Homo sapiens: one gene and its partners. The protein of the gene in region 1 interacts with the protein of each later gene in a pairwise test. Each region holds a gene or a part of one and is shown in the gene's direction. Other genes may lie near its edges. The genes, in order: ECT2, KLHL20, CDH1 and CTNNA1.

The links.
Region 2: the proteins of ECT2 (region 1) and KLHL20 interact in a two-hybrid assay, tested with the Homo sapiens proteins (one study listed by BioGRID).
Region 3: the proteins of ECT2 (region 1) and CDH1 interact in binary tests that used the Homo sapiens proteins (3 or more experiments, as listed by UniProt).
Region 4: the proteins of ECT2 (region 1) and CTNNA1 interact in binary tests that used the Homo sapiens proteins (3 or more experiments, as listed by UniProt).

What each region holds. Positions count from the first base shown.
Region 1 is NC_000003.12:172,745,761-172,753,732, forward strand, and holds the start of ECT2 (protein ECT2), read left to right. Parts: upstream 1-4,965; 5' UTR 4,966-5,097; intron 5,098-5,241; exon of another isoform or gene 5,242-5,356; intron 5,357-6,389; exon of another isoform or gene 6,390-6,712; intron 6,713-7,972. UniProt on the Homo sapiens protein: Guanine nucleotide exchange factor (GEF) that catalyzes the exchange of GDP for GTP. Promotes guanine nucleotide exchange on the Rho family members of small GTPases, like RHOA, RHOC, RAC1 and CDC42.
Region 2 is NC_000001.11:173,717,967-173,724,998, forward strand, and holds part of KLHL20 (kelch-like protein 20), read left to right. Parts: intron 1-7,032. UniProt on the Homo sapiens protein: Substrate-specific adapter of a BCR (BTB-CUL3-RBX1) E3 ubiquitin-protein ligase complex involved in interferon response and anterograde Golgi to endosome transport.
Region 3 is NC_000016.10:68,733,312-68,740,322, forward strand, and holds the start of CDH1 (cadherin-1 isoform 1 preproprotein), read left to right. Parts: upstream 1-3,980; 5' UTR 3,981-4,104; coding exon 4,105-4,152; intron 4,153-4,985; coding exon 4,986-5,100; intron 5,101-7,011.
Region 4 is NC_000005.10:138,931,409-138,935,550, forward strand, and holds the end of CTNNA1 (catenin alpha-1), read left to right. Parts: intron 1-1,169; coding exon 1,170-1,304; intron 1,305-1,479; coding exon of another isoform or gene 1,480-1,550; intron 1,551-2,393; coding exon 2,394-2,681; 3' UTR 2,682-3,626; downstream 3,627-4,142. UniProt on the Homo sapiens protein: Associates with the cytoplasmic domain of a variety of cadherins. The association of catenins to cadherins produces a complex which is linked to the actin filament network, and which seems to be of primary importance for cadherins cell-adhesion properties.

The sequences.
Region 1 (7,972 bases):
TATGTGGTAGGGATGAGGGTGATAGAAAATTAGGTTACAGTCATCTTGGGAAGTCCATCTTATACTGGACTTTATTCTGTGAGCAGTGAAGAAACCATGTCTTTTGGTTTAGTTTTGTTTTTAAGGAGGGGGATACATAGTCATATTTAGTTTTCTAAATGAAGATAATTCTGTGACTGATGACTGGAAGTAGAGAGAGTGATTAGTTCCCAAAAGACCAACTAGAAGGCTGTCCTTGTCATAGTTTGGATGAGAGATAATGAAGGCCTAAACTCGGGCAGTGGACTGAAGGGGGAAGATTCAGATTCTAGAAATATTTTTCAGGTCAAATTGGGAGAATGGTGTTGGGGTTGGTGGTGCAGGGAGACCAAGAGGAGGAAGGGAACAGGAAGATGACTTTGAGAGATCCAACTTGGGAGTCAGAGTGAATGGGGATTCTACTAATCAGGAGAGAAATACAAGAGGCAGAGGAGATAAAGGATGGAGAGCTGGGGAAAAGAAGAATTCACTTTAGCACATGAAGAGTTTGATAGGATTGTGGGTCACAGGAGCAGAAAAAATTGGTAAACAACTGGCATTATAGAGTGGGTTTCAACAAGGTCTGGCAAGAAAGAGAGACGTGGAAGCATATGCATATAACTTAAATCCCTGGGAATGAATGAGTTCACCTAGGGAAAGGGGGTTGCCTGAGAATAATACTTTGGGGAACAATAATATCTAAGCAAAGGAAACCGAGAAGGAAACATCAGAGAGGCAGGAAGAGAAGTAAGACAGTGAAAGTGGTGGTCTTTCAGCAGCTGAATTAATGACCATGGGTTAGAAAGGGGTGCTATCATTAGGGGGAACTGAAGGCTAAATATCCTTGATTCATGTGTGAAAGGGATTAAGAGATGGGAAGAAAATTTCGTAATCAGAATGGAATGTTTGAAGTTAACATTTGAGAGCTAAAGCAATTGAGTGTAAAACATTTAGGATATTGTCCATCAAAATAAGTGTTGAATTGAGGTTTTGGGATTCAAAAATTCAAGGAACTGTGAATCTAATTGGCTGGTTCATCAAAGGAAGAAAGACAGAGAACTAGTCTTCTGAATTTGGAAACTGTTCTATTTATTTAATGATACTGCTATTTATCAGAAATTTATATGGATGTAGTAATTTTTACATATTTTGATTCCACTCTCATCCTCTATATTTAATCAAAGTCCCAGTAATTTTTCCTATTCCTTATCTCTCCAACCCATCTTTTCTATCTTAGTTCAGACTATCATTTCCTATGAGTTTGAATTCAACCATATTCTCACTGGTCTTTCTTCTATTTCATTCTTCTATTTCAAGTGAAGTTGTGTTGTGTTCCCAGATTGCTACTTTTTTTTTTTTTTTTTTTTGAGACGGAGTCTCGCTCTGTTGCCCAGGCTGGAGTGCAGTCGCGTGATCTCGGCTCACTGCAAGCTCCGCCTCCTGGGTTGAAGTGATTCTCCTGCCTCAGCCTCTGGAGTAGCTGGGCCTACAGGTGCGCACCACCACGCCCGGCTAACTTTTGTAGTTTTCTTAGAGACGGGGTTTCACCATATTGGCCAGGGTGGTCTCGAACTCCTGACCTCAGGTGATCCGCCCGTCTTGGGCTCCCAAAGTGCTGGGATTACAGATGTCAGCCACTGTGTCTGGTCCTGATCGCTACTTTTAAAAAATAACACAGACCATATAATTTCCTTGCTTCAAGGTTTTTAATTGATCTTCAGTGCTTTCAGCATAAAGTTTAAACTCTGTCATGACAGTGGAGCTCTTCCCAAGCTCCTTCTAACATGGCATTTATTTTACTTTTTATTTTTTATTTTTTGAGATGAAGTCTCGCTCTGTCGCCCAAGCTGGAGTGCAGTGGCGCAATCTCTGCTCACTGCAAGCTCCGCCTCCCGGGTTCACGCCATTCTCCTGCCTCGGCCTCCCGAGTAGCTGGGACTACAGGCGCGTGCCACCACGCCCGGCTAATTTTTTTGTATTTTTAGTAGAGACAGGATTTCACCATGTTAGCCAGGATGGTCTCGATCTCCTGACCTCGTGATCCGCCCGCCTGGGCCTTCCAAAGGCATGTAATCTCATGCCTGGGATTACAGGCATGAGCCACTGCACCTGGCCAGCATTTATTTTTTTTTGAGATGGGGGCTGGATGGTGGGGGGGAGGGGCGGTCTTGCTCTATCGCCCAGGATGGAGTGCAGTCACTACCTAGGCTGGTCTTGAACTCCCGGCTTCAAGGGATCCTCCTGCCTTAGTCTCCCAAAGTGCTGGAATTATAGGCATGAGCCCCCACACCTAGCCTAACCTAGCGTATGTCAGTTGTCTTCCACTGTCCTCTTCATGTATATTATGATCCAGCCACACCAAACTGTTTACTGTCTCCTATATATATTGAGCTTTTATGAGAGCCTAAAGTGCACGTAAACAAGCTAATATTAAGAATTTATGTTTTTAAAAAAGTTCAAGGTTAATATGCCATTCAGTTCAATTGCCTATGCCGTATATAGTATTTAAAAATTTTTCATAATGCTGATCTTGAAACACTATAGCACTTGAAACAGCTTCTGACTCAGTAAGACTAAGTTACTTGTATCATTGTTTTGTAGGTATTTGAATTCTGTGAAAACCTATGCATGCAATAAATTTTTCACCGCAAATACAGCTATCTGCTAGAAGTGCCATGAGAACAAGGCCCATATTTGTCTTGTCACACCTATATTCTCAGTGCTAGCATAGTACCTAATGGGTGCTTAATAGTTATTAAATGAATAAACTATGATTAGGTTAATCAGGACATCCAGTCTCTCAAACATTATGAATGAACTTGGATCTAGCTCATTCACTCTCGAAATATTTATTTGGTACCTACATGTGAAGATTCCTGTGTTTATTAGAGAGCAATGTGTAACATTTGCCTTTGCAGTACTAGCTTTTTGAAAATACCTGAAGATGAGGGATCATGTTTTACTTTACCAGACACCAGCCCTCTGCTAGGTGCAATTAAGTGGCATATGATCACCTATGCACACGATTATCTGAAATACTCCTCTCCACATTGCTTTCTTTGAGCCTGCAGACAGATCTATACTAGACTTTATTTACACTCATCTATTATTTCTGGGTTCTAATGCGGGCTAAAATATTTATTAGGAGACACTGGGTAAGTTACTTAAACCTTTCCTACAGTTTCATGGTATCATGGGACTATGATACCTACTTGTGGGTTGTTTTAAGGATTAAATAAGGTATAAAGTGCATAGTAAAGTATCAGTATGTTCATTCTCTTTCTTCTCTCCCTTATACTGTAATTATCTGTTTATCTGCTAATTTCCCTCACCAGATTGTGTGGTCCAGACAGGCAGTTTTCTATGCCTTATTCATCTTTATAACCCCAACAAGCACAATGGCTGTCTTAAAATTAGTAAATATTTGCTGAGTAAATGAAGACCTAAGAGAGTGAAAAAGGTTGTATTACCCGTTTATTTGTTAATCTAACTGCCACACATCCCTTAAAAGAAATCAAGTACAGCTTTTGTTAGGGAAGCTTAAAATTCATGGCAATGATACCATACACAGTTAATCATTAGCTTTGGAAAGTCTGTTGAGCAGAAAGCGGTGCACAAAGGAAGTAGGGCTGCTTCCCACAATAGCTTAATATGTTTTCAGTGATGAACGTTTTTGGAATGCTGGGCACACCCGACTTCCAAATACGCAAGCACATTCCAAATGGAAATTTCAATTACTGTTTTTCTTTTTTTCTGCCGTAACAGTTATCACAGCATTTTAATGAAGGTCAGACTTAAATACTGACAAGCAGGGAAACCAATAATTACCAGATTGCTTCATTCATTTTGTGGACAGCATTATAAACTTTTCAGGCATTCTAAGATTGCCTGACAAAATTAGAAAAAATTGTTAAGTCCCCACAACCTGCTTGAGATGCTCACAAGTGTTCCATCCCAAAGTACACGTTTGCCTCTTCTTATTGGTATTTAGGTTCTGGCATCTGATTCCCCTTTCTTCTTCTATTTATATTAGCCTTCAGGTGGGAACTATGGAAAACCCACCTGGTGGGGGTGTATTTTTCTTAAGAGATTGTGTTATATGGTATCATATTTAGAAAATAAAGAAATTATTTTCATAATAGCAACGCTAATCACAGGAAAAACTTGATACATTCTTGACTAGACTTTAGGGGAAAGTACAAGTTCTTAGTGGGCGGAGGGGGGCAAAGACGAAGCAATTTGGCTCCAAAAATTCTAGAATCTCGTGGCATATTTTTATCAAATTCAAGCTTATCTTTAAAAAAATCCGAGAATTTTTCTAATTTCTAAGAATTGATTCTAACCCGCGATACTCCCTAGATGGGAGCGCAGTGCTTTAAATAATAGCATTTAAATAAGCGGCTGCTGATTTGAAGTCCACCTGGGGAGTCCGAGTTCTAGGACCGGTCCTTGGCCCTGCCACACGCCAATACAACCATCAAAGTCAAAATCCCTTAACTCAAATTTAAATACATTCCTAAAGCAGAAAGCATCCCGATAGGAAAATCCTACAGCTCACAGCAAGCAGCAGGGAAACATTTATCTCTGGCGGCACTGATTTAAGCTTAAAAGATTTGGTATCGTTTAAAAAAAAAAAAAAGCTGGGTGGGGCCGAGGAGAATCCACCCAAACTTTCCTCAGGAAGTAGGATGTTTACTGAGTAAATATGCGGTAGTCACAGAAACACCTGCTACTCCTTTAAGACCTCAGGAGCCACCACCGCCACCTCCTGGCCACATCCGGGCACTTCTCTGCAAACTCCTGGCGTCCCGACGCCCGAGTCGTTGGGCTTATTTGAAACACACGCACAACCAATCAAGCGGCGCCTGCCGGGACTTGGAGAGCGTCGACCAATCACCGCCCCTCTGGAGACTCCTGCCTATGGGAAAGAGGTTGACATCACGCGCCAATCGGCATGGCTCTTAGAGAGAGCAGCTTAGTTTTTGAATCGGTTGTGGCGGCCGCCGGCGAGGAATGGCGGTATTTGTGAGAGGAGTCGGCGTTTGAAGAGGTGGAACTCCTAGGGCTTTTTTGAGAGTGGTAAGGACTCTGTGTGAGTGAGAGAGGTGCAAGTGGGCGAGCGGCTCCAGAGCCAAGGGCTCTTTTGCCTGCGGTCGACGTCCCCGCCCCTAGTGACCGCGAATTCCGGAGCGCCCCAGCTCAGGCTTCCCGGATCCGGGAACTCCCTCGCCGCACCCCACCCCCAGCAGCCGGGCCCTGACGCGGAGTGGGAGACCGAAGCCCCCAGTATTGCTGGGCATCTTCGCCCTCACCTGTTGGCTCTTTTGGACAGAAGAGTGTGGGTGAAGGGAGGGAGTTGGGAAAGGGATTTTGGCAAGCCGCGCAGCCCTGTGGCTTTGGGGGCCGGCACTTGCAGCCTTTGGGGGCTTATCTCAGAGTGCGCCGTGGTTTTATTCTAGGATTCATCCTGGCTTCTTTGCGGGAAGTTTAATTTTTCGTTTTTGCAAGATAAATCCAGGCCATCCGCCCCTCGTCCTCCCCAGCCACCCGGCACAGATGTGTCCGGCTTAGTGGTTAAAGGCGCAGCCTCTGGATTTAGCCGGGCTTTGAATACCTCTTTTACCCCTTACTAACAGTTTGACTTAGGGGAAGTTGCTTAACCTCTCTGTTCCTACGTTTCTTCATCCATACATTGAAAATAATAATAGTACCTGCCTCTTAGGATTACTGCAGAGATTAAAAGGTTTAGGACAATGTCTGCCACGTATTAAGCGTTAAGTAAATGTCAGTTGTTAATAGTAATGTTATTGTTAATAACACCACCATTATATCTTGGATTGCATTTTAGTCCTTCACCTTGGAAGATGATTGCCTAAAAAGTATTTAAGTAAAAGGAAACTTGAATGTTTGTTTACATGGCAAATTTTATCTCTGGGATAAAAGGGGGCATGTGTTATAGTGTGTTTAGTTAGAAGCTCCTTGGGTCTGTTCTTGGGTGAGAAGCTGTGTAGGTTTATGAACACTGATCCTATTGTGCTTATTTTAAAGGCTTCTGGAATACAGTAATTTGAAAAAAAGTGATTAATATATTTCCATTTCTAATCTGACTGTTGGATGTTAGTTATGTCATCAAGTTACCGTAGTGCATCTCTTTTTCTCTATACATTTTGAAGCTGTTTTGGCAATAAATTGATCATATACAGTATCATCAGGGGCAATTTTAATTATTAATCATCTGCTTTCGATCATCTGCTATGCTCCCTCCCTTTTATTAATCATCTGCTTTTGATCATTTGCTGTGCTCCCTCTTAAAGAGGGAGGCATAGGAGAAAAATGTAAATATTTTCAAGAAGTTTTTTTTTTTTTTTTAGACGGAGTCTACCTCTTGTTACCTAGACTGGAGTGCAGTGGCACGATCTCGGCTCACTGCAACCTCTGCCTCCCGGGTTCAAGCGATTCTCCTGCCTCAGCCTCCTGAGTAGCTGGGATTACAGGTGCCTGCCACCAAGCCCAGCTAATTTTTGTATTTTTAGTAGAGACGGGGTTTCATTGTGTTGGCCAGGCTGGTCTCGAACTCCTGACCTCGTGATCCGCCCGCCTTGGCCTCCCAAAGTGCTAGGATTACAAGTGTGAGCCACCGCGTCCGGCCTTTCAAATGGTATTTTTGATTTTCCTCTTCCAGTCCTTAAAGCAGGTTAGCTCATCTCCTGACTTTTTTTTTTTTTTAAACATTCTTTTAAGGGGACTTTGAATGAAAGCCACTTTAATGCCTTTTCATTGGAAATGGTTGAGTGTAGAAGACTTAAAATAATAGGGCTGGATAGAATTTATCATTGATTCTAAATTAAGGCTGTTACAACTATTGGACCGCTCCTTTGGAGAGCCTTAGAATAATGATTGACATGGATGTATGGTAAAGCCATAAGAAATATCCATATTGTGAATATTACATGAGAATAGTTGTTTGTTGTTCACTTTAAGACATCTATTCAGTTTTCATCTTAACTAGATTTGAGTTGTAGTACTATGTGTGTTCCACCAATGTGGAAACTGAGGTTTAACTGACTATGTGCAGGGCTGAGACAGGAAGCTGAGTTGCCTGATTTTGAAGTGTCACATAACAGCATACAGTTTAAACTGTTACTTTGCTAAGACTCTGGAGGAAGGTATTTGTATATTTTATTAATCTGAAGAAGTAGGAAAGGGGAAAGTCTGACATGTAGCTCTCGTTAAAGGTGGGTCCTCTGTATATTTGCCTAATATTTAGAAATTTACTCTCAGTAAAGTTGACTTATTGAAAATTGATAAAAAAATCTCTAAAAAAATTTTTTTAGAGAGACAGGGTCTTGCTCTGTCACCTAGACTGACTGGAGTGCAGTGGTGGGATCACAGCTCACTACAACCTCAAACTCCTGGATTCAAGTGATTCGCCCACCTCAGCCTCTTGAGTAGCTACTATAGGCACCTGCCACCCACACCTGGCTAATTTTTAAATTTTTTGTAGAGATGGGGTCTTGCTATGTTGCCCAGTCTGGTGTTGAAGTCCTGCCCTCAAGTGATCCTCCTGCCTTGGCCTCCCAAAGTGCTGGGATTTCAGATGTGAGCCCCCAACCCACCCTGATGAAAACTTGTTAAACCTTTTATTCCCTGTCTAGCTTTTAAACTCTTCTTAAGTCCTGGAAAACTTAAAAAAGGATTTTCTTTCATAGTCCAGAGTTATATTGGCACTCACCCATGCATAATTGTTTTGTCAAACCTTTTAGGGGAGAGGTGTTTTTAAAGAATTATGAAAATACTGACAAGGGACCAGCCCAATTATACCGGAGAGGTTTAGAGACATCCACAGAGGATGAGTCAAGAGTGTTGGATTGGGGGTTGGAAGACAAGATAGGTGGAGAGTCGAGCACTAAATGCAAATAGATGTGATGTAAATTATGATTTGTGCCTGAAAAAT
Region 2 (7,032 bases), on another chromosome or scaffold:
AAGTTAACTCTCCCATTGCTGACCCCAGTTCCCAAAGGCAACCACTGTAAGCAGTTTCTTATGCATTCTTTTAGAGGCATTGTAGTTCATACACAAATGTATATAAGATGTCTTCTCTTTTCACTTTTTTAATTTCTATTTTGTAGATACAGGGTTTTGCCATGTTGCCCAGGTTGGTCTCAAACTCCTGGGCTCAAGCAGTCCCCCTGCCTAGGCCTCCCAAAGTGTTGGGATTACAGGCGTGAGCCACCACACCTGGCTAACATTAGTAGCTTTTAAAAAGAAAAGATGGCTAGGCACAGTGGCTCACACCTGTAATCCCAGCACTTTGGGAGGCTGAGGTGGGCTGATCCCTTGAGCCCAAGAGTTCAAGACCAGCCTGGGCAACATGACAAAACCCCATCTCTACAAAAAGGAAACAAGAAAAATTTAGCCAAGTGTTGTGGCAGATGCCTGAAGTTCTAGCTACTCAGGAGGCTGAGGTGAGAGGATCACTTGAGTCTGGGAGGCAGAGATTGCAGTTAAGCCGTGATCATACCATTGAACCCCAACCTGGGCAACAGAGCAAGACAGTGTCTCAAAAAAAAAAAAAAAAGACACAAATGTTGTAGGGCATAGTGGTTCACACTTGTATTCCCAGCTACCCAGCTACTTAGGAGGCTGAAGCAGGAGGATTGCTTGAGCCCAGGAGTTCGAGGCTGTGGTGATCATGCCACTGCACTCCTGCCCGTGTAACAGAGAGAGACCCCATCTCTTTAAATAAATAAATAAAAATAAGAAAATGCATTTGAAAGGACACTGTCAGTATATCATGCACATTCTTCTGTATCTTTATTCACTTGAAAAATTATTTTGTGGCTGGGTGCGGTGGCTCACGCCTGTAATCCCAGCACTTTGGGAGGCCGAGGCAGGCGGATCACAAGGTCAGGAGATCGAGACCATCTTGGCTAACACGGTGAAACCCCGTCTCTACTAAAAAATACAAAAAATTAGCCGGGTGCGGTGGCGGGCACCTGTAGTCCCAGCTACTCGGGAGGCTGAGGCAGGAGAATGGCGTGAACCTGGGAGGCGGAGCTTGCAGTGAGCCGAGATTGCGCCACTGCAATCCGGCCTGGGCTAAACAGCGGGACTCCGTCTCAAAAAAAAAAAGAAAAATTATTTTGTAAATTGTAACAAATGCATATAGACTTACCTTATTCCTTTTAATAGTTATGTAGTATTCCATTGTCTATATGCACCTTAGTTAACCAGTCCCATTTGAGAGAGATTTATTTCAACTGTTTTGCTGTTACAACCAGTTCTGTCTGCAATGAATATCCTTGTAGGTGGTTTTTGCCCAGATGTGTAAGTATAGAATAAGTTCTGGCTGGGCGCAGTGGCTCACACCTGTAATCCCAGCACTTTGGGAGGCTGAGGCGGGCAGATCACAAGGTCAAGAGATCGAGACCATCCTGGCCAAGATGGTGAAACCCCTTCTCTACTAAAAATACAAAAATTAGCTGGGCATGGTGGTGCGTGCCTGTAGTCCCAGCTACAGTGCCAGTCAGGAGGCTGAGGCAGGAGAATCACTTGAACCCAGCAGGTGGAGGTTGCAGTGAGCCAAAATCGTGCCACTGCACTCCAGCCTGATGAAAGCATAAGAATCCGTCTCAAAAAAAAAAAAGAATAAATTCTTAGATTTAGAATTGCCTAAAGATTATGTACATTTTTTTAATTTTGGTGGACATTGACAAATTTTTGCCCTTAGAGTTACACAAATGCATAGTCTTTACCAACAATATGTTTGTTTCCCAAGATATTAATTTTCAATCATTCATTTTATTAAGAGATACCAAATATTTTGTAATTAATTCTTCCAACTTTCCTTAAATATATAAATAGAAAACTGAGCTTGATTGTAGAAATTGGTTTATTCATATATCAAACCTTTATATAGTACCACTCTATTCCTGTATATTGTGTGATACAGATCAAGTGATGAGAACAGATATAATGATACAGTATTGGCGTGGTACAGTGACTCATACCTGTAATCCCAGCACTTTGGGAGATGGAGGAGGAAGGAAGATCACTTGAGCCTAGGTGTTCAAGGCTGCAGTGAGCTGTGACTGTGCCACTGCACTCCAGCCCGGATGACAGGGCGAGACTTCATCTCTAAAATATAATTAATTAATTAATTAACAAACAATGTTAACAGAATTTTAATAGAGATGTAAACTTAAGAGGAGGGAACTGCTCTGTGGAGATGAGGAAGCATCACAGAGATGGTAACATTTGAGCTAGATCTTCTAGGAAGAATAAGAATTTACTTCTAAAGAAGGGAGTTAATTAAGGACACCATAAAAGGAAGGAACAGCTTGTGCAAAAAAAAAAAAGATAAGAGAGAGTACCAAGACCCAGAATTGTCTGACATGCATGGAACAGTGAGTATATGTGGAGTATAGGGTATTTTGAGGAAGAAGGGGAAGTAGAAAACATGGAAATTGAGGCTACAACAGTGGGAAAGAATTCAAACTTTATCCTTTAGGTATTTAAGAGCCAATGGACATTATTATATACATCGTTTGTTCTTTGAACTGATTTCTAGGCACATAGGGGATGGATTGGAAAGAGGGAAGAAATTATGGCAAGGAAATGAATTTAAAGTAGTTGTGGTAGTTTAGATGAAAGATGATGAGAACCTGAAGTATATCTATGGCAGTGAGGGTTGAGAGAAGTAGATGGAATTGAGAGCTTGTATAATAGTAAAATCAAAAGGATTTGGTGAACATGGAGTGAGGAAGAGATAGTGTTATAAATGACTCCAAACTTAGGAAACCAGATGCCGCCATGATAAGATTAAAAAGAAAAATACAGGAAGAGGAACAGGTTTCAGTAAGCCAAGAATAGATTCTGTTTCATATACTTTAAGATTATTGTGTTTAGGAAACAGCCAGGTGGAGATATCCAGCATGTGATTGGAATATGACTCTGGGGCAGAAGAGAGATTTGGGCTAGAAATTTAAAAAAAAAAATGTGAGTCATCAATACTAAGAAGGTTCTTCAAGCTGTAGGCATAAGTGATGGTAGAACAGAAAAGGAGAATGCTGAGGACAGAACTGTAGTGAGTACCAGGGGTGTTTACGATGGGGCCTAGCAGGAAGGCCCCATAAAGTCTCTAAAATGAGTAAGAAGCTTTACATGCTTTGGGTCTTATTTTATTTAACAGTATCTAGAGTTTTTATTGATAGTTTTTTACTCACATTGAAGGATAGCTGAGCTACTCCTTCAGTTCAATTTCAGAAGACAAAATTTCCAATCTCGTATCTTTGAAATTTTCAATTTGTTCTACTCAGTCTAAAGTGTATGCTTAAAAATAGTGTAAAACATACTTGCTTGATTTGACTATTCCCTAGTGTGGCATGCACTGTAGGTTAGCTTGCACATCTCTTCTTTTCTTCCGTCTACTATAGACACTAGAAAATTAAATACTCTGAGTTCTTAGTTGTCTCTGCATATGGGAAGGGCTGTGTGACACAGTGCTACCAATGAGATGTCAGCAGTAGTTGTTGAGGGGTATTCTAGGAAGGCTTTTGCTATCCTGATATAAAGGGAAACTAGCATGCTTGCATGAGGATTTACCCTTCCTGCTCCATCTTGGTCTCGATCACTGGACCAAGGCACCCAAGGCTTATGCTCATTTTATCCAATAAGCCGTGATGAGATGTCTTGGGACTAAAACATTCACAACCAAGTTTCAAATAAAGAGGTTAATAGCTTGGCCTTCTGGTGTGGAATCAGGTGTGGAATATAGTGCCTATTGGGACCCCTTCTACTAAGTAGAAGTGACACTTTGAGATGTTATTTCTGTTTTGAGGGTTTATACACTCAAATCTCCAGCTGTCTCTATTCAAGTATATTTAGGACTATAAATGAGGGTCAGTGCAACTGAATCTTTTTTAAGGTCAAGTTGTTAATTTTCAAAGTAAAACAAAATTTTTGAAGTAGGAAAGGTGAAATGTTCATTTAGATAGCGTATTAGTCCATTTTGCATTGCAATAAAGAAGTACCTGAGACTTGGTAATTTATAAAGAAAAGAAGTTTATCTTGGCTTGTGGTTCTGCAAGCTTTTCAAGAAGCACTTGTCACACATGTCACCACACCTGGATAATTTTTAAATTTTTTCGTAGAGATGGAATCTCATTTTGTTGCCCAAGCTGGTCTCAAACTCCTGAGCTCAAACGATCCTCCTGCCTCAACCTGCCAAAGTGCTGGGATTACAGCTGTGAGCCACCATGCCCAGCTAGCTTTTACATTCTTAAATGGTTGAGGAAAAAAGGCAAAAGATGAATGATATTTCCTGAAGTGAAAATTATATGGATGGACACCAATGGCTGGGGGCACAGTGGCCTACACTTGTGATCCCAGCACTTTGGGAGGCTGAGGCAGGAGGATCACTTGAGGCCAGGAGTTCTAGACCAGCCTGGGAAACAGAGAGAGTCTTTGTCTCTACCAAAAAATTAAAATTAAGCCAGGCGTGGTAGCATGCACCTGAGAGCCTCCTCAGGAGGCTGAGGTGAGAGGATCGCTTCAACCAGGAGTTTGAGGCTGCAGTGAGCTGTGATCATACCACTGCACTTCATCCTCAGTGACAGAGCAATACCTTATTTCTAAAAAAAAGAAAAAAAGATTCTACTATACTGATGCAGTAATAAGAGCATTATTTTTTTTTGCTATGGTAATTTTTTTTTTTTTTTTGACATAGAGTTTCGCTTTTGTTTCCCAGGCTGGAGTAGTGCAGTGGCACAATCTTGGTTCACCGCAACCTCTGCCTCCCAGGTTCAAGCAATTCTCCTGCCTCAGCCTCCCAAGTAGCTGGGATTACAGGCATGCGCCACCACATCCAGCTAATTTTTGTATTTTTAGTAGAGATGGAGCCTCACCATGTTGGCCAGGCTGGTCTCAAACTTCTGACCTCAGGTGATCCAGCCACCTCTGCCTCCCAAAGTGCTGGGATTACAGGTGTGAGCCACCGCGCCTGGCACTATGGTATGTTTAAAAGAAAAACGGAGACATTAGCTTAGTTTACCCACATTGTACTTAGGTGAAATAAAAAATTGTTTATATCTCAGTTCAACAGTAGCATCTTTATGTATGTAACTAAGGTTGTGACAATAACACTTTACTTTCAGCATGCAGTGTCAGTATTCCAGGAATTTTTGGTCTTCTGTCTTTAATTGTTACTTTTTTAAAAAAGAAGCTTGATTGTACCACTGTTAATCATGTGATTTATTCTTTCAGCATCTACTGTGTACAAGGCACCATTTTAGCTCTGTGGTTAAAAGCATTCTTGATTGTTTATATGGATGGTAAAAATTATTCTTTAACTGCTCAGCTTTATGTTTTAGTCTTTAAAATTGCCAAGCGTAAACAGTGATGTTTTTACCAGATGTATAAGTGTTTTGGAAAAATTGGTTGTTGTTGGAGAAAAGAAGAACCATGTTTTTTATTTTTGTGCTATATCTTTGCAATGCACATGCAATTTCTTCTCCCTAGAATGTCCTTATAGATTTTTCTGTCCTTCTCAGGAGACTCCTTTTACACTTTAGTGTTTTATTATACTGTAGTTCCCGTCAGTGCTACAGCTTTGGAAGTAGCAGACTGATAGGGATGCTGTCCTTTGCAGGCTAGATATTAGACTCTCTCAGTAGTTGTAGATAATTAGCATCTGAGAGAGACTCACATGAGGCTGACCTAAAACTCAGTGATCAGAATGCTTGAGTCATCCCCCTTTTAAGTAGCATGGTACTTTTGGAAGAATTTTCCATCAGAGGACTGCTTAATGAGTTTAGAATCAGAAACAGAAATATAACGATCTGGAGCATGGATGTGAGATATTTCACTTAAGCTCTGGGAAAACCCAGTGTAATATTCCTACTTTACAACAACAACCTTTGTAGTAACCTGATAGGCTATACCTGTGAGATCCAGAATCTTTCTGAATGATGTTAAACATATACTTCATAGATTTTGCCTTTCTGAATGACTTTTAAGCTTTATTGAGGTATAATTGAGGTACATATTTTATGTATACATTTTGATGAGTTTGGGCATATGTATATACCCATGATATCACCGCAATCAAGGTTCTAAACATATGTATCACCTCCAAAAATTCTTTTATATATATATACACATACACATACATGATATATATGTTTTGGGGATTTTTTTTTTTTTTTTTAGAGATGGGGCCTCACTATGTTGCCTAGGCATGGCAAACTCCTGGGCTTAAGGGATCCCCCCGCCTCAACCTCCCAAAGTACTGGGATTACAGGCATGAGCCACTAGGCTCAGCCTCCTCCGAAAATTCTTATGTTTGAACCACATCTTTTGTCCTGGTTGCCCTCTTACTAGTTATTCATGTATCTCCTCCTCTAGAGATTGCTTCTTTATATTACTTAGAATTTTCCACAGTCTATAGCAAAATGCTTTGTGTACATTAAAAGCAATTAGTAAATATTTGTTAAAAGAATAATTATTTTAATTAAGAGGCATAGATTGTCTTTTCTCTGCATGTTTATATAATGTGATCATACAAAAATCCAAATATCTTATTTCTAATTATTTGTCAGTAATTTGTGACTTTTACCTAGTAATTTAGCACCTGAATTTCTACATATGAAATATGAATATAAGATACAAATTTTCAAGCCAGGCATGGTGACTCACACCTGTAGTCCCAGCTACTTAGGGGGCTGAGGTGGGAGGATCAGTTGAGCCTAGGAGGTCGAGGCTGTAGTAAGCCGTGATCAAACCGCTGTATTCCAGCCTGGGTGACAGAGCAAGACCCTGTCGCAAAGAAAAGATACAAATTTGTATCTTATATATTATCTGGAATGACTTTTTAAACATAATAAAAGTATTTTAGGTATTTTATAAGTACTTAAAGGTAATTCTGAAAATTTCTTAGACCATCCCCGTTAATTTCAGCTAGAAAAGTGATGATATAAGTTCACTTTGTTATGCTCATTCCCTTAAATATGAAATGCA
Region 3 (7,011 bases), on another chromosome or scaffold:
GGGGTTTCACCATGTTGCCCAGACTGGTCTCAAACTCCTGGGCTCAAGTAATCTTCTCACCTCCCAACTAGCCTCCCAAAGTGCTGCGATTACAGTTGTGAGCCACCAGGCCTGCTTAGGTATCCCTGTTTGATACAAGAGAAAACAGAGGGCAGGCACAGTGGCTCACACCTGTAATCCCAGCACTTTGGGAGGCTGAGGTAGGTGGATCACTTGAGGTCAGGAGTTTGAGACCAGCCTGGCCAACATGGCGAAATCCCGTCTCTACTAAAATACAAAAATTAGCCAGACATGGTGACGTGTGTCTGTAATCACAGCTACTCAGGAGGCTGAGGCACAAGAATCTCTTGAACCTGGGAGGCAGAGAGTGCAGTGAGCCGAGATCGCGCCATTGCACTCCAGCCGGGGCAACAGAGCAAGACCTTGTCACTAAATAAATAAATAGGAAACAGAGAAGCAATTCAGTGTGTTGCGAAAGTCACACAGCACCTGTCTTCCACAAGGAGCCCCTCTGTGTTCCCGCCTCACCCTGGACACCTGATCTACTGTCTTTGGAGCTTGGAGAAGGACTTGCCGAGAAGTCTGAAGAATGCATCAGGCCTGACCTGACTTTGCTGCCCCTAATTGTTTTCTAAAATCCTTTTTATTGAATTATCAGAGTGTAATGGAAGAGTCGATGAGAGTCGCTGCAGAGTTACGAGGCCAAGGCTTGCTGGGTAGAAGAAAGTAAAGCCCTAAAGGCTCCCAGGGCCCAGCGATGGTATAAAATATGTATTTTTACATAACTGAGAGGAAAAAAATAAGCAGACAGTACAGCCCCATGGGGGAAACGCCTCTTTCTGTATTTCCATTATCTTGTTCAAGGCACGATCCTAGTGGGAAAGGAAATACCGGAGCCTTCTCCCTCTGAGCCTCCTGGTGGGTTAAGAGCAGAGGGAGCCAAAATACGACATCCAAAAGACCTGATTGGAAACTCATTAAAATTGAGGGGACAGGTTGTTGGGGGGGGCGGTGCTGGGCTGCCCAGAAATCGTCTGCATTTGAGAAATTACTTGATGGACTCAGAGGCACCTTTAGCTCTGGGTGAAATATTCCAAACATGGCTTTCCCCAGGAGGAAGCGAAATAGGGGCTGGGCCTTTTGAAAGAGTAACCCCTACTCCAAATATTTATTGAGCAGTTGCTATGATGAGCCAAGAACTCTGCTTAGCGATTGTTTTTGTATTAGCTCATGCCAATTCACTTATACAAAGGAGAACACTGACTTCCCCAAGGTCACAGGGCTAGTGAGTGGCTGACTCCACTTAATGCTGTGTAGTTCTAACCATGCTTGAAGGATAAAGGGAAAGGAGGTGCCCTTGTCGGGGTAGACAAGCCACCCAGACGTGGCTGGCCACAGGGAGTCAGACAGGGAAGTTGTCTAACCTAACATTTGCCTGTCTATTCTGTTTTTGTCTTTTGATGGAGGACGGCGGGTGCTGGAGGGCCACTGGCCCAGGACCTGAGACCTTTGGCCCCTATCTATTCTATTTTTGATCCTAAAATTATTTCACTGGGGACAGAATTCTCTGGAGAAGGTGATGGTGGCCATGGTGTGGCTGTGGCATTAAAAGCCCCACTCTGGGGGTCAGAAGATCCTGGGTTTTGGTCTTTGGCTTTGACATTGACCTGCCTATGTGACATTGAACAAGTTATTTGCAAATCATAGGTTTGGGTGAACTCTAAAGGTCTCTTCCAGGTCAACATCAAAAAACAGACTGAAAACTGCAGCTCCAGCTGGAAGACTGGGACCACATGAGATGAAGCTGATTGTTAGAAGAAAGGCCCTGGAATCAGAGAGGTTGGTTCCAGTCCTGCGCCACCTCTCATTGGCCTCAATCTCTCTAAGCTTCAGTTGCCCATCTATCATATGGGAATAATAATACAGCTCTTGGGTTGTTTTGAAATGAGCTTAAATGAGCTGGTCAGTGGCTGGGCACGGTGGCTCATGCCTGTAATCCCAGCACTTTGGGAGGCTGAGGCAGGTGGATCATCTGAGGACAGGAGTTCAAGACCAGCCTGGCCAACATGATGAAACCCTGTCTCTACTAAAAATACAAAAATTAGCCAGTCGTGGTGGCGCATGCCTGTAATCCCAGCTACTCAGGAGGCTGATAGAGGAGAACCGCTTGAACCCAAGAGGCGAAGGTTGCAGTGAGCCAAGAACACACCATTGCACTCCAGCCTGGGCGACAGAGCAGGACTCCGTCTCAAAAAAAAAAGAGCTGGTCAGTGTCAAATGCTTAGCACAGAGACTGGCACAGTAATCTTCAATGTCCAGCACCTATTGTTACTATTTTTTTTTTTTTTTTTTTTTTGAGACAGAGTCTTGCTCTGTCGCCCAGGCTGGAGTACAGTGGCGCGATCTCGGCTCACTGCAAGCTCCACCTCCCAGGTTCATGCCATTCTCCTGCCTCAGCCTCCCGAGTAGCTGGGACTACAGGCGCCCACCACCACGCCTGGCTAATTTTTTGTATTTTTAGTAGAGACGGGGTTTCACTGCGTTAGCCAGGATGGTCTCAATCTCCTGACCTCGTGATCTGCCCGCCTCGGCCTCCCAAAGTGCTGGGATTACAGGCGTGAGCCACCATGCCTGGCCCTATTGTTACTATTTTTACCCCTCACTTCTGTACAGAGCATTTATGGCTCAAGAAACATTTGTCATTTTAATTGTATGGGAGTCCCACAACAGCATAGGGAGACATTTCTGATCATTATTCCCATTAGGAGGGTGGAGAAACTGAGGCTTTGGGAGGTGGTCCTGACCTAGGGAATCAATTTGCTGACTCACTAACCCATGAAGCTCTACAGTTAAAAAAGACTAGATTAAAAAATGAGAACTCAGTAAAGGGGCTGAGGCAGGAGGATCGCCTGAGTTCAGAAATTTGAGATCAGCCTCGGCAACATAGTGAGATCCCCTCTCTAGAAAAATTTTTTAAAAAATTAGGCCGCTCGAGGCAGAGTGCAGTGGCTCACGCCTGTAATCCAACACTTCAGGAGGCTGAAGAGGGTGGATCACCTGAGGTCAGGAGTTCCAGACCAGCCTGGCCAACATGGTGAAACCCCGTCTGTACTAAAAATACAAAATTAGCCGGTGTGGTGGCACACGCCTGTAGTCCCAGCTACTCAATAGGCTGAGACAGGAGAGTCTCTTGAACCCGGCAGGCGGAGGTTGCAGTGAGCCGAGATCGTGCCACTGCACTCCAGCCTGGGCAAGACAGAGCGAGACTCCGTCTCAAAAAATACAAACAAAACAAACAAACAAAAAATTAGGCTGCTAGCTCAGTGGCTCATGGCTCACACCTGAAATCCTAGCACTTTGGGAGGCCAAGGCAGGAGGATCGCTTCAGCCCAGGAGTTCGAGACCAGGCTGGGCAATACAGGGAGACACAGCGCCCCCACTGCCCCTGTCCGCCCCGACTTGTCTCTCTACAAAAAGGCAAAAGAAAAAAAAATTAGCCTGGCGTGGTGGTGTGCACCTGTACTCCCAGCTACTAGAGAGGCTGGGGCCAGAGGACCGCTTGAGCCCAGGAGTTCGAGGCTGCAGTGAGCTGTGATCGCACCACTGCACTCCAGCTTGGGTGAAAGAGTGAGACCCCATCTCCAAAACGAACAAACAAAAAATCCCAAAAAACAAAAGAACTCAGCCAAGTGTAAAAGCCCTTTCTGATCCCAGGTCTTAGTGAGCCACCGGCGGGGCTGGGATTCGAACCCAGTGGAATCAGAACCGTGCAGGTCCCATAACCCACCTAGACCCTAGCAACTCCAGGCTAGAGGGTCACCGCGTCTATGCGAGGCCGGGTGGGCGGGCCGTCAGCTCCGCCCTGGGGAGGGGTCCGCGCTGCTGATTGGCTGTGGCCGGCAGGTGAACCCTCAGCCAATCAGCGGTACGGGGGGCGGTGCCTCCGGGGCTCACCTGGCTGCAGCCACGCACCCCCTCTCAGTGGCGTCGGAACTGCAAAGCACCTGTGAGCTTGCGGAAGTCAGTTCAGACTCCAGCCCGCTCCAGCCCGGCCCGACCCGACCGCACCCGGCGCCTGCCCTCGCTCGGCGTCCCCGGCCAGCCATGGGCCCTTGGAGCCGCAGCCTCTCGGCGCTGCTGCTGCTGCTGCAGGTACCCCGGATCCCCTGACTTGCGAGGGACGCATTCGGGCCGCAAGCTCCGCGCCCCAGCCCTGCGCCCCTTCCTCTCCCGTCGTCACCGCTTCCCTTCTTCCAAGAAAGTTCGGGTCCTGAGGAGCGGAGCGGCCTGGAAGCCTCGCGCGCTCCGGACCCCCCAGTGATGGGAGTGGGGGGTGGGTGGTGAGGGGCGAGCGCGGCTTTCCTGCCCCCTCCAGCGCAGACCGAGGCGGGGGCGTCTGGCCGCGGAGTCCGCGGGGTGGGCTCGCGCGGGCGGTGGGGGCGTGAAGCGGGGTGTAGGGGGTGGGGTGTGGAGAAGGGGTGCCCTGGTGCAAGTCGAGGGGGAGCCAGGAGTCGTGGGGACGATCTTCGAGGGAAGGAGAGGGGCATCCGTAGAAATAAAGGCACCTGCCATGCCAAGAAAGGTCGTAAATAGGAGTGAGGGTCCCGGGGATAAGAAAGTGAGGTCGGAGGAGGTGGGAGCGCCCCTCGCTCTGAGGAGTGGTGCATTCCCGGTCTAAGGAAAGTGGGGTACTGGAGAATAAAGACATCTCCAATAAAATGAGAAAGGAGACTGAAAGGGAACGGTGGGCTAGGTCTTGAGGGGGTGACTCGGCGGCCCCCTCCCGGGAGTTCCTGGGGGCTCGGCGGCCGTAGGTTTCGGGGTGGGGGAGGGTGACGTCGCTGCCCGCCCGTCCCGGGGCTGCGGGCTGGGGTCCTCCCCCAATCCCGACGCCGGGAGCGAGGGAGGGGCGGCGCTGTTGGTTTCGGTGAGCAGGAGGGAACCCTCCGAGTCACCCGGTTCCATCTACCTTTCCCCCACCCCAGGTCTCCTCTTGGCTCTGCCAGGAGCCGGAGCCCTGCCACCCTGGCTTTGACGCCGAGAGCTACACGTTCACGGTGCCCCGGCGCCACCTGGAGAGAGGCCGCGTCCTGGGCAGAGGTGAGGGCGCGCTGCCGGTGTCCCTGGGCGGAGTAGGGAGGGGTTGGAAAGGGGCCGAGAAATTGCACTCCCACACCCCTGGGTTGCAATGGGCAAGCTCCCTCCTTGGCTCAAACGACACCCCTTGGAATTTACGCAGATTTGGGGATCCAAACGTTTACGACTGAACACTGTGGTGGAGGGGGTAACCCTGCCTGGTTGTTGACTATGTTATAAAGAAGAGGAGGTTGAGGGCACTTACTAGAAGCCTTCGTATTTCTCTTATTGCCCTCAGCACTGTAGAGACAGTCTCTCATTTCAGACTGCAAAAACCTGGTGGGTGGGAAGGCCTGGCAGGAGTATTCCCGTTTTACAGTTGAGCAAACCGAGGCTAAGAGAGTGACGTCCACTTGCTCAGGGTCAGCAGAGCAGATATCTGAACTGGGATCTGACTCCCAGGCCCCATTAAGCACCATCTCTGGGATGACTGAAGAGCAGCCCTCTCTTGGTTACTGGGCTGTGGCTTTTGTTTACAGATATAAAAGCTTTTTTTTTTTTTTTTTTTTTTTTTTTTAAAGACAGGGTCTTGCTCTGTTGCCCAAGCTGGAGTGCAGTGGCACAATCATAGCTTACTGCAGCCTCCATCCTCTGGGCTCAAGTGATCCTTCCCATCTCAGCCTCCCTAGTAGCTGGTTATCATGGGCATGTGCCACCACACCTGGATAATTTTAACTTTTTTTTAGGCTGGGCGCAGTGGCTAACGCCTGTAATCCCAGCACTTTGGGAGGCCGAGGTGGGCGGATCACAAGGTCAGGAGTTCGAGACCAGCCTGGCCAACATGGTGAAACCCCATCTCTACTAAATAAAAATATAAAAATTAGCCGGGCATGGTGGCGTGTGCCTGTAATCCTAGCTACTCAGGAGGCTGAGGCAGGAGAATTGCTTAAACCCAGGAGGCAGAGGTTGCAGTGAGCTGAGATAGTGCCACCGCACTCCAACCTGGGTGACAGAGCAAGACTCCGTCTCAAAAAATAAATAAAAAATAAATTTTTTTTTAGAGACAGGAGTCTCTCCATGTTGCCCATGCTGGTGTTGAACTCTTGGGCTCAAAGGATCCTTCTGTCTCAGCCTCTCAAAGTGCTGGGATTGCAGGCCTGAGAGACTGTGCCTGGACCAAAACATCTTGATACAGGTACTGTTTCCCCCAAGGAATAATGATTTTTTTTTTTTTTTTTTTTTTTGAGATGGAGTTTTACTCTTGTTGCCCAGGCTGGAGTGTAATGGCGTGATCTCGGCTCACTGCCACCTCTGGCTCCCAGGTTCAAGTGATTCTCCTGCCTCAGCCTCCTGAGTAGCTGGGATTACAGGTGCCACCACCATGCCCAGCTAATTTTTTGTAGTTTTAGCAGAGAAGGGGTTTCACCATGTTGGCCAGGCTGGTCTGGATCTCCTGACCTCAGGTGACCCACCTGCCTCAATCTCCCAAAGTGCTGGGATTACAGGCATGAGCCAGCACGCCTGGCCAGGAATAATGATCTTTTTTTAAAAAAAGCATGGTAGTTCTGACTCAGGATGAAAATGCATACACCCAATGTACTTCTAGGCCTTATCGTTGTGACAATCTAGAGTTTGCTTTGTTCCACTTGACTGTTGTCCAGGGAGCAAGGGAAGGGGCTAGTTTCTCTTCTGGTTTCACTGAATCCCAAGTGCTTCCTTTATATCAAACCACTTTCTCCTCTCTCATGATTTTACTTGATTGGGTATCACAATAAGAGGCATTTTTTTTTTAAGAGAAATCACCCACAATTCCCCTGAGGGAACACCTCCACTGTGTCATTCTTCCAGTCTTTGACCACATGAATCTTTAGCAATCACGCTGTTGTCTTTACATTTTTTTTTTGAACTTTGGAAGTCATTCGAAGTTTTTTACAG
Region 4 (4,142 bases), on another chromosome or scaffold:
GAAGCTCTTTCTCAGTTACAGTTTTTCTCTGTAGTTAACAAGCCTCCCCACCATTTTCCCTGAAATAGCCAAACTCTCAGCCTCATCTAGGCCACAGGATGTGTGAGACACAAGCCTCCTTACACAAGCCAAAGATTGTAAAGGCATCCTTGACTCCCACACAATCGGTAATAGGGCCTATTGCTTCCATTGGCCAAATGTATCTTGACACAAACCAGTCTTGTCCTTTCTGCAGATCTCCATAGCCACTTGGACTACTGTGGCCGCTCCCGATTTCCTGTTCTTTCCTCTCTCCACTTCCTTCTGCATCCAGCTGTCAATACTGTCATCTGAAAATGCAGATCACATGGCTCTGCCCTGCTTCCATGACTACTTAGAATACAGCTCATCTCCAGTATGGTCTGCGGGGTCTCAGTTCATACCACTCTCTGTGGTGTACTTTGCTCCAGCCTCACTGGAAGAAAATGTTTGCTTGCTATAAACACTTGAGAGGTGCTCTGTGTTTCTCCCTTTGGGTAAAGCTTTCTAGGCTGGTCCTAATCTGGGAGCCTCTAAAACTCTGAGATGTGGAGCGAGACAGGAACTGGGCAGGGGCCACCCTTTTCTCTTTGACCATCCCCAACTGCTTTTTTTCTTGCTTTACTTTACTCACTTGTCTTCCACCTCAGCCTGCAGTGAGTGGCTTTTGTCATCAGGCATTAATAACGCAAAGTGCCTCAGAGCAGAAGAGTTAACTATTTGTTTACTTAGCTAAAAACATCTGGACTTTTCTCCATAGCCAGGCTCCTGCTTGCTGAGCCGGCTTGTTCTCACCTCGAGGGGCATGGGCCTCCACCCTGCCGTTTGGGGTGAGGGGATCCTTGGCCAGGGTGGTTTCCCCGCCGTCATAGGAGGGAAGTCAGTGGGAGGCTCAGAAGGCCTTGGCTATACAACCAGTGCCATGCGGCGCAGTCAGGGTCCCATGGACGACTTCCATCAGCTCACCCGCCTCCATCCCCAAGCAGAGTGTAGGCAAGGGCTGTGACTGCCTCAGGTAATTGGGTGATTTTGCTCCAGCAAGAGGAGAGGAAGCATGTGAGTGCCACACTGAACCTTTCAGAAACAGCCGTGGGGTCGGGGGTGCTTGGGCCAGGCCAGGATACTTGGTGTTAAGCCTGCTCTCTCTTCAGTGCCCCGACTCGGCTTGCAAGCAGGACCTGCTGGCCTACCTGCAACGCATCGCCCTCTACTGCCACCAGCTGAACATCTGCAGCAAGGTCAAGGCCGAGGTGCAGAATCTCGGCGGGGAGCTTGTTGTCTCTGGGGTAAGCATTAGCTGAACAAAAAGAGGGCCAGTGGGAACGTGCTGACCCTTGTCAGAAATGAAAGTCACCTCCTATCCGCATAAACACCTGCCCTGGGAAAGTGTGCTGTGCAGAAACTCCAAGTCCTGTCCCAGTCTCTGGAGACCAAGGTCTGTCCATCATCTGTTCCCTGTAGAACTGTGACACCTGCGGGGCACTGCAAGGGCTGAAAGGCTGGCCTCCTCCCCTTTGCTGGCCACTCACTGGGTAGGAATTTTTAAAAATCTTCCTTGGGACCGGGCGTGGTGGCAGGTACCTGTAAGTCCCAGCTACTTGGGAGGCTGAGACACAATAATTACTTGAGCCTGGGAGATGGAGGTTGCAGTGAGCCGAGATGGCACCACTGCACTCCCGTCTGGGCAACAGAACAAGACTGTCTCAAAACAAAACGAAACAACAAAACAAAACAAAACTTCCTTTTCTTCCCCCAGAGAGGAATTAAGAGTAGACATAGATAGGGTGTTTTCTCAAAAGCCCTTCACTCCTCAGAGTGCTTGGGTAGCGTCTCTTTCTTTTTACCACATCACAGTTCTGAGGCCTTTCTCACCTAGGGCAGGGGAAAGAAGAGGTTTGCTGAGTGGATTGGGGTCCACCGAGCCTCCATGGCTTCTCTTAATCCCACTGAATTTCCTTTAAAAGAAACACTTCTTATATTGAACATATTGAGACCATTTGCTCATCTGCTTTGCCATAAACATCCCTGTCTCGATTCCTGCTTCTCCTCCCCCACGTGCTTACAGCTCTGGGATCACTTACAGTGACTTCCAGTTGGTTTGAGTGAATAAACACTTGCTGAGGGGTGGGGGTGAGCAAGGCGAGGTTGCCTCATGTCTTCTCCAAAGGGTCTGAGGGCAGGCGCTTCCAGGCTATTTAGATAAGAGCAGCCGTTGAGGGTGTTCTTCAGGAACAGGCTGCTGCCCAATCCTCTGCGACCTGCCCAGGCCCTGGTCTTGCAGAGGAGTAGGGGGCTCCCCTTCAAGCACAGCCCACCTGTGTCCACGAGGCTGGAGGTCAGGCCGGTGCTTCTTACCACCCCTGTCTGCCTCGTAGGTGGACAGCGCCATGTCCCTGATCCAGGCAGCCAAGAACTTGATGAATGCTGTGGTGCAGACAGTGAAGGCATCCTACGTCGCCTCTACCAAATACCAAAAGTCACAGGGTATGGCTTCCCTCAACCTTCCTGCTGTGTCATGGAAGATGAAGGCACCAGAGAAAAAGCCATTGGTGAAGAGAGAGAAACAGGATGAGACACAGACCAAGATTAAACGGGCATCTCAGAAGAAGCACGTGAACCCGGTGCAGGCCCTCAGCGAGTTCAAAGCTATGGACAGCATCTAAGTCTGCCCAGGCCGGCCGCCCCCACCCCTCGGGGCTCCTGAATATCAGTCACTGTTCGTCACTCAAATGAATTTGCTAAATACAACACTGATACTAGATTCCACAGGGAAATGGGCAGACTGAACCAGTCCAGGTGGTGAATTTTCCAAGAACATAGTTTAAGTTGATTAAAAATGCTTTTAGAATGCAGGAGCCTACTTCTAGCTGTATTTTTTGTATGCTTAAATAAAAATAAAAATTCATAACCAAAGAGAATCCCACATTAGCTTGTTAGTAATGCTCTGACCAAGCCGAGATGCCCATTCTCTTAGTGATGGCGGCGTTAGGGTTTGAGAGAAGGGAATTTGGCTCAACTTCAGTTGAGAGGGTGCAGTCCAGACAGCTTGACTGCTTTTAAATGACCAAAGATGACCTGTGGTAAGCAACCTGGGCATCTTAGGAAGCAGTCCCTGGAGAAGGCATGTTCCCAGAAAGGTCTCTGGAGGGACAAACTCACTCAGTAAAACATAATGTATCATGAAGAAAACTGATTCTCTATGACATGAAATGAAAATTTTAATGCATTGTTATAATTACTAATGTACGCTGCTGCAGGACATTAATAAAGTTGCTTTTTTAGGCTACAGTGTCTCGATGCCATAATCAGAACACACTTTTTTTCCTCTTTCTCCCAGCTTCAAATGCAAATTCATCATTGGGCTCACTTCTAATAACTGCAGTGTTTCCCGCCTTGGGCTTGCAGCAGAAAAACCTGACAACATAGTGTTTGCTAAGGCAGTAATTTAGACTTTACCTTATTTGTGATTACTGTAGTGATTGATTGATTGATTACTATTAACTACAAGGTATAATTTACTATCACCTTATTTAAATTTTATGAATTAATTTGAATGTTTTTTACACTAACTAACTTTTCCCAATAAAGTCCACTATGAAACCACGACATCCAAGAGCCCAAAGTCGTCTTCTCTGCCTTCAAGTCATAGATTTGCCCGCAGTATCTGTGGTGCTCTGGGCCCTCCCGGTGTCCGTCTCTTCCAGGATGGGGATGCCCGGGAGGGAAACTGTCTGTGGCTCTAGGCTGCACGGCTCGTGCCAACCCATCAGGGAGGGCCATGCCCGTTGTCCTATTGAGTGCCCCACCCTGCACCCCCACCTTGGGAATTCACATGTCCATTCCTTGAGGTTCATGTCAACCTCGGAGGCATCCCTGTCTTCATTATAGCTGACCCCTCTCCTGCGTCCTTCTGTCAGCATATCCCTTCTGCATCCTTCCCGTCACACATACATACCAAGCTATGATGATTGATTGATAGTGGCCTTCGAGATGAAAACCATCCTTAACCCCATGATCCTTCCCAGCTGGCATCCCCACCCTAAGCAAGGTTCCCTAAAGAGAAGCTTGTTGACATTTTCTCCCCTTCCTCACTTACAGTCAGCTGTCACCTTGCTCCCTCCACC